Linked DNA regions of Homo sapiens. The protein of the gene in region 2 purifies or fractionates together with the protein of the main gene of each other region. This does not show direct contact. Each region holds a gene or a part of one and is shown on either strand. Other genes may lie near its edges.

What was found.
Region 1: the proteins of DTX4 (region 2) and DSTN purify together in Homo sapiens (affinity purification with mass spectrometry, with the first as the bait; one large-scale study listed by BioGRID). This does not show direct contact.

What each region holds. Positions count from the first base shown.
Region 1 is NC_000020.11:17,568,729-17,572,874, reverse strand, and holds the start of DSTN (destrin), read right to left. Parts: upstream 2,801-4,146; 5' UTR 2,667-2,800; coding exon 2,664-2,666; intron 1-2,663. UniProt on the Homo sapiens protein: Actin-depolymerizing protein. Severs actin filaments (F-actin) and binds to actin monomers (G-actin). Acts in a pH-independent manner.
Region 2 is NC_000011.10:59,175,132-59,178,631, forward strand, and holds part of DTX4 (E3 ubiquitin-protein ligase DTX4), read left to right. Parts: intron 1-2,704; exon of another isoform or gene 2,705-3,500. UniProt on the Homo sapiens protein: Regulator of Notch signaling, a signaling pathway involved in cell-cell communications that regulates a broad spectrum of cell-fate determinations.

The sequences.
Region 1 (4,146 bases), on a different chromosome or scaffold from region 2:
TGAAATATGGCAATAAGATAGCCCTGTTTTTCCTGTACAAAAGGATCTGTTATTCTGTGTACTTTTCTGCTTAAAATGTTTCAAAATTATTATTTTAAAACTTGGAGTTGGAAAAGGTGATTTGTCTCAAGTCAATTAATCCTTTACAATCTGTTTTCTCATATGTTAAATAGGCATGTGAATACATGCCCAACCTATTTCACTGGGTTGTAGTGTTTTTGCTAATCACCAAGTATTAGAATACTTGAATACTGCGCCAATTAGTTCAGTCTGTGAGACCACAGTCCAGATTAGGATAAGGTTAAGGGTTAGATTATCGTGCAAACCTTTTAACTCTACTTCAGGGGCAAGACTACACTCTTACTTTCCAAGAAGCATAAAAGATACTCTGGTTACAAGAGGAGCTAGGCAAGTCTAGGTGTGATGTCTCAATCCATATCCAGTAGAACTACTGAGCAAATAACCTTAGTAACTTGATGATGGGCTACTAAACAATCTCTGTATAAGGAGGCTGGCACACCCAGTACACACACACACACGTTTTGTTTGGGGTCTGTAATTGTGGTTCACGTGGAGGCAGACGTTGTTTGTTTTTTGTTGGAGGAGACATCTGAAAACATCTAATCTCATCCTGAAGCGCCCAGCTGGTTTCAAACTGCTTTATTTCAGGTGCTTCTAAAAGACTTGGTGAGTACAAGGAAGTGATTCTGCTAATTTAGAACAAACCCATCGGTAGTTAAAATTTAATCTTAAAAGAAACTTGGAACCAAGCATCTAACCAAAAGAGCTAAAAGCAAAGTGCTAGACTCTGGGATAATACCCACAATATTCTCTAATCACTGAACTAAACAAAGATGCTCCTGCGCTCATAAGGCTAAAAACAAAAATAACCTTTAAAAATGGGGGGTCTATAATCTGAACTCTAAGAGTAACTTGTAAGGTCTTCTTGATCTCCCTAAAGCCAACAATTTTGAAGCGTATTTGGAAATCGCTCATTTCTAATTTTTATTTCTCCCACTCCTCACAAGAACCAGGAAATATAACAGACCCTTCCTTCCTTGAATTTAGTTAAGCTTTAACTAAAACTAAGCATTTAACTAAAGGTAAAATGTTTGGTCTCTTATTTTCAAACAGAAAAATAAAGTCTGTATTAGCCACTCAATAAAAAAGCATAATGTCAAATCAGAAGTCTCTAGAGCAGACCCTAGTCAGCTTCAAAGCACTTTCACAGAGTGAATGGTCTTAAGCGTACCATAACTCAAAGCCCCTAGATTAAGTCTTTCAGTATAAAGTAGCATATACATTTAAAATGTTATTAAATTTCTAATAATTAGATATTAAAAAGACTCAAGATGCTGATACTTTGTAGCTTACAGCATTAAACCAAAGAAGAACCAAAAACTGAACAGTATCAAATCCCTATTACATACATATCTACAGTCATCAAGAAACTACCGGTTTATCTTTTCTTTCACTAAGGGGCCGCCTGCATGTTCACGGAAGTTGTAGTAACTTAAGAAAACCAAAACTGTTATACAGTGAAAACAGTTTGTATGCAGATAAGCTGGTACCAACTGCTTCTAGACAGATGCAATTACAGTGTAATATTTCTAGCAAAGTCTGGTAAGGCTACGCCTGCAAATCACTGACCAAAAATGGTAACAGTGTGTGCACACTAACGAAAACGACAAAATGTTCCAACTGATAGTTCAGTTGAGAATACGTTTTTAAATAGCTAATTAGAGTGACAGTGTAAAGGGGGAAAATATGTAAATTAAGCAAAATGTCCATCATATAGAATATACTAATGAGCACCTGTTTACTTTCTGGTGACTCCAGTATTTTAATGGTTTTTAAAGCTCTTAAATTTGGTTGTATCAGCATCCCAGCATCATGCCCACACCTTGCGCACCAAGTTCTGGCAGAGTCCAACTGTCTACAGGTCAGAAAAAAAATTCTAACCATACACGGACAGATCGGGCAGGGAAGGGTTAAAACAGACACTGCCAAGCTTGACAAGCACGACGAGAGTGCTGCTGGAAGCCGATTGCCAGATAAAAAGAAAAAAACAAAGGAGCTGCAAGGCCACCCCGTTCTAAATCATGCCAGGATCCTGCTCGTTAGCGATCATTCCGTGCTCTAGGACTGTTCCATAAAGGCTTTATCTTCCTTATTGAGATGGACAGACCTCAAGGGCTGGAACGCGCACAAGTCACCAAGCGCCTCAGCGCCAGCTCTGGGGAAACCCACGCCAACAAGGACGGTGGCCGGATTCCGACGCCCCCCGCCCCCCACTCCCCGGCCTCGGTGTGCAGACCCCCGGATGGATTTCACAGAGCGGGTGGGGGCGCTCGACCCCAGCCAGTTGTTGCAAGGCCGGGTCTGGAGACACCCGCAGAGGCCACGCTCAGGGCGGCGGCCTCGCCCCAGCTGGGAGCTGCGCAACAGCCGCGGATCCACCCCGGGGCGCGGGGGCCCAGCCAGGACGGCGGGAGACGGAGGCCCAGAGACCCCCCCTCACCCGCAGCCCGGACACTGCAGCCGGACCGGGTCCCTCCCCGGGCTGAGGCACGGCTCACCCCCTTAGCCCCGACTCCGCGGCGCCCCAGAGACACACTGCTCCCGGCCGCCTCGGCCCACGCCTCGGCCTCCCTCCTACTCACCATCTTCGCCGCGGCGGTCGCAGGGACGCGGGGGAGGGAGCCGGCGGGCAGCGAGTATGCAGACCGTCCTCCTCACGGCTGCGGGACCGAGAGACCCAGCGCTGAGCTGACGCGGCGGCGCGAGCTTACCCCGGGGCGGGCGCGCCTCAGGACGGAACGCGGCTGCGCACGTCACGCACCGCCTGCCGTTGCTACGCAACCAGCCGGCCAGGCAACGCCCCCCCGGCGGCTATCCAGAGTCTCGGAGGGGAGCTTCCCTCATCTGCTGAAGGCTGCGGGGCAGGGTCCGCCTCACCAGAAAGTGTTTAGGGGTGGGGGTGCGTCCTCTCTGGTCTGCAGGAGGCTAGAAGGCGGACTGGGCTGGCTCCTGCTGGCGAGGGGCGGGCAAAAGATGATGGGGGAGGGGTGGCCTTCCTTCGCCTCCTCGGCGGGGCCACCTGACGCCCCACCCACTGTGCAGGCATGGCCCGCGCGGGGAGGCAGCCACCTGGCCAGGTGTGCCTGCCGCTGGGGCGGGGCGAGGCCGTGGAGGGGAAAAGGAGGGGAGAGCCGGGGGAGAGGGGTACAGAGTGTGGGAAGGAGGGGGATTTGGAGGGGAGAGGCGAGGGGCACATAGTTGGGGGAGGAGGAGGATGGAGAGGGGAGGGAAGAGGTGAGGGAGAGGGGACAGTGTGGGGAGAGGAGGGGGATGTGGGGGGAGGGGCGAGGGGGCACTTAGTGGGGGAGGTGGGGGCAAGGGGAGAGGTGAGGGAGAGGGACACAGTGGTGGAAGGAGAGAGATGTTGGGGGTTGGGAGGGCAGGGCCCGAGGAGGGGGAACGCACTGGGGGAGGACCCACGGGAGCGGAGTCGCGGGCCGCGGCAGCGGGGACGCCTCCCGCATTTTTTACCTACTTTGGTGCGATTCCCGCCGCCCTCCCCTGATTGGCCCAGTCTGGCTTGTCCTGCCCTCGCGTGAGGGGAAAAAAGTCTGCACATTTTTCCTCCTTCCCGAGGCGACCGTGGCCATGCAGAGTGCTCTGTGAGTCACCGTTAATTTCAGGTCTGGAAAAACAAGGAGCATTTATTTATCTTTGGGAACTGCCGGGGAAGGAGGCCGGCGGCGCGCAGGGGTGTGGCTGGGAAAGGCCGCGCTGTCCCGGGACGGTGGCGCCAGCCCCGCCGCTCAGTTCTCCGGGTTTTTAATTTGGAATTGTGTTTTTCTAATGGGCGGTTGCGTCGGAAACACGGTTTTCAGAGGGCCCAGATGAATCCCAGCGTTTTTGCTGCGGGTGTTTTTGTGGGAAATAAAGGGAACAAAGAATTTTATAAATTAATTTAGGTTACCGAGAACATCATGGCCTCGACCAAAACTATTTTAATTCTCCAAATATGAGACTTTTGGACAAGATGGTCAGTATTTTTTTTTCCGGCACTACGTAAAATCTAGGTTGTATGTGGCTTTTGTTCTGCCCCACTCAACATAGGAACCCATTTCTCATTAC
Region 2 (3,500 bases):
GGAACTTTAAACCAGTGGCTCCCAGGCAACCTCAGCTAAGCCCTTGCAATGTTTAATTAAATTACCCACCATCCTTAAGCCATAATTCAAAGCTGGGAACCAGAAACATCCCCATAAACAAAAGAGATCTGGAAGTCCCCTGCCCAGAGGCGATTCCTCTCCTTTTTTGTTGCCTCCTCTGTATGGGGACATTTCCTGACATGAGAGCTTTGTCTTTTTAGAAGTTGCTTGCTCTGCTGCTGATAGAGTCCTCAGGCTCTCCACTCGCCTGGGCTCCTGACCTCATCCAGCCTGTCTCCAGGGAGATGGCTGGGAGGTCCCAGACACCCGTCTGCCCGCCTCTGTTTGCCCTGGGCCCTTCTCCTTCCCCAGACTGCCTAGAGGTCTGATCTTATTTGCATTCTATGCCAGTCTTCTCTAGGCATTTTGGGCTAGAGAATCTGGAATAAGGGTAGAGATGGGGTGAGATAGATGGGACTGGCTCTTGGCCACTTCCAAAAGCCTCGGTGGGCCCCTCTCCACCTGCCATCATTTACCTTGACTGGGTTGTCCTTTTTCTGTTGTAGGGCAGTGACTGAAGAGCTTTACTTCAGCATCACTTTCCCCTGTACCTTTCAGCATGCCTGACCCTACCAACTCCAGGTTTTCAGTAGCAGGATGCGGAAGATCCAGGCTGAGAGTGGAGACAAACAACTGTGGCTCTCATTCCAGGCTCACTGTTTACTCCGTGACCTTGACCAAGTCTCTAAATGGTCAGGCCTCATTTTTTTTTTTTTTTTTAGAATGAAGAGCAGGCTTAAGATTTCTTCTTTCCCTCTTTTTCTTTCCTCCCATCATGCAGATCAACAGGTGAATGGGTTGGCCCCTGTGCCAGTGATGATACTGATAAGCACAGGGTAAAGGAGCGTTCTTTCCAGCTCTGAGTTTTCTGTGCAGGTTTTGCCTTCTTTATGTCTTTTAAAGTGGTGAGAAGTGTCAGATGGAGAGAAAGAGCATGGGCTGAATTAAATGATTTGACAGAAGCTGAGTTTTAGCCCCGCCACAAAACCCTCTACCCTATGTTAGCATAGAAGTGGAGGAGGCAGGCATCATGATGACCACATGATAATTACAATGTGCAGGATGCACCATGTGTCTGCATCATGGCAAGCACCTTGCACACACTATCTTGTTTAATCCTCACAACAATCTTATGAAGAACCTATTATTATCCCCATTTTATAAGTAAGGAAACAAATTGAAAGTGATTAAGTTGCTCAAGGGTTTACAGCTAGTCAATGGCAGGGCCGAGATTCTGAATTAGGTGCCCTATGTCCTATTTCTACATTCAGTAAATAGTTATGGAGCAACTATTTAGCGCAGTCACTGTTCCAGACATGTGAGATATAGCAATAATAGAGCATCCAAATATTTCTTTGTCCTTACGGAAAATTCTGGTGGGCGTGGGGGATGCTGGTAAGAGCGGCCTGGGATTTCTTGGACCTAGCGCATGCCCTAACGGCAGTGAGTCACTTACATAGATGTGTGTAACATGCCCCAGAGACCTCAGTGCATGCCTGGAAGGCATGGCCTTCCACTTCCCAGAAGCTGAAAGGTTTTGGGTGCTTTGTAACGCAGGTGGAAAATCTGTAAAAAACTGATTTTCTTTCTCCTTCTTCATCCTTAGTTTATGAACATCCTCAATCCCTATCCTACTGGAGCCCCTTTCCTTGGGTTACTTCACAGATTATCTGGTTTATAATACTGATTCTAGAAAAGTCGAGAACTAGCACATCCAAAATAGGGTGGTCTCTGAAAATAATCAGCGAGTAAAATCCCACCATGTCTATTGTCTCAACACTTTGGTTCTGAGGTCTGCATGCTATCTCTGACTCTCTGTAGCGTTGAATTGAACTCAACAACTTTCCCTCCAAAACCAGCTCTTCCTCTTGACATCCCTCTGACACCATTTTACCACTTTCCCATGGTCCAAACCCAGGATTCTTTGACTCATTCTGTCATTTAGAATCTTATTTGGGCACCTAATAGGTACAGGCACATAGACCCTGTAGCCCAACAGCTGAAATTTGAGTGTACCCATGCACCACTCAAGGTGGCCATTCACATGCAGATTCCCATGCCCAGGCCCTGGAGATGCTGGCCTGTAGGTCTCAAGGGCACTGCTGATTCAATTCATACCCCAGGAGATTCTGACGGAGGCGATCCTCAAACCTCACTTGGAAAGCATTCAGCTACTCATGATCAAGTCTTACCCATTTTTTTCTCTGTAAGGTCTCTCCAGTTTGTCACCTTCTTTTCATTTTCTATGCCAACACCTCTCCACTCACCTGGAACTAATGGACAGAGTGGCTCTGGTCTTGCCCCTCTTTTCTTAACAAACTTCACTGGCTCTTCATTGATTACAAATTAAATCTATCATAGTCTGACATTTCAGACCTTCCATACCCTCTCTGGCTCTAACATATCTTTCCAGGATTGTCTTCTTCTATGCCTTATATTTCCCTCCAATCTGCCAAACAGAGGCTACCTCTATCCTCATGCATTCCTTTAGAGTTCTCTGACACCCTTCACCCCCCCAGCTAGCCTTGAGGTCCCTTCTTCTGAAACACTGTCCTTTGCCATTTTTACCTCTCAAAATTCTTTTTGTTATACGAGTCCATGCCATTTGTTATTCATTTCTTAAAACATTCTCCACACCTTGAAATGCTTTCCAAACCATCATTACTTCATTTATTGAATCAATATTTTGGAGTGCCTAGGACATGCAGGCATAGAGAATACAGCCATGAGCACATACCTTGATGCCCACTCTCATGGTACTCACTCTCTAGTGAAGGGGACAGATATTCATCAAATTAGCCACACAAATACATATGTAACTGCACATTGAGATGAATGCTATTAAAATTTTTTTAAAAGGAACAAGAATTTCACCTGGCCAGGACTGCCCAGGGGGCCTCCTTGAAGAAATAAGCTCTTCCTGTGGGAAGAGCTATGGAAAAGATGCCAGAGTTTTGGGGAGGAACCAGCATTGTGAAGAGGCCCAGAATCAGAGAAGCCTGGCAATGAGGAGAGATTGAAGGCCAGTGTAGCTGAAATGTGGGCAGTTAGGCTATGAGGGGGCCATGTATGTTGGTGGGTAGGGGGGATTTAGATTTCAACCTAATGGGAAGTCATGGAAGGGATTTACGCAGGGAAGGGACATGGTCAATTTTCCTGCCAACATGCATTTTGTTGGCATTCTCCTTGTGATACGTTCTGCCTCATAAATAGTCATTCACACACTTGTCTTCTAACCCTGTTTCAGACTGAAAGCTAATTGAGGAATGCTTGAATCTGCATTCCCCATAGCAGTTAATGAGTGCTCAGGGATATGTGATAAATGATTAAATATTAAAGTAGCCAGAAGTCTTCAATCAGTCACAGCAGTTTCTGGAGCCCTTGCAACTGCCAGACACTGCATTAGGCACTAAGAATGCAAAGAGCTCCACAGTGGCATT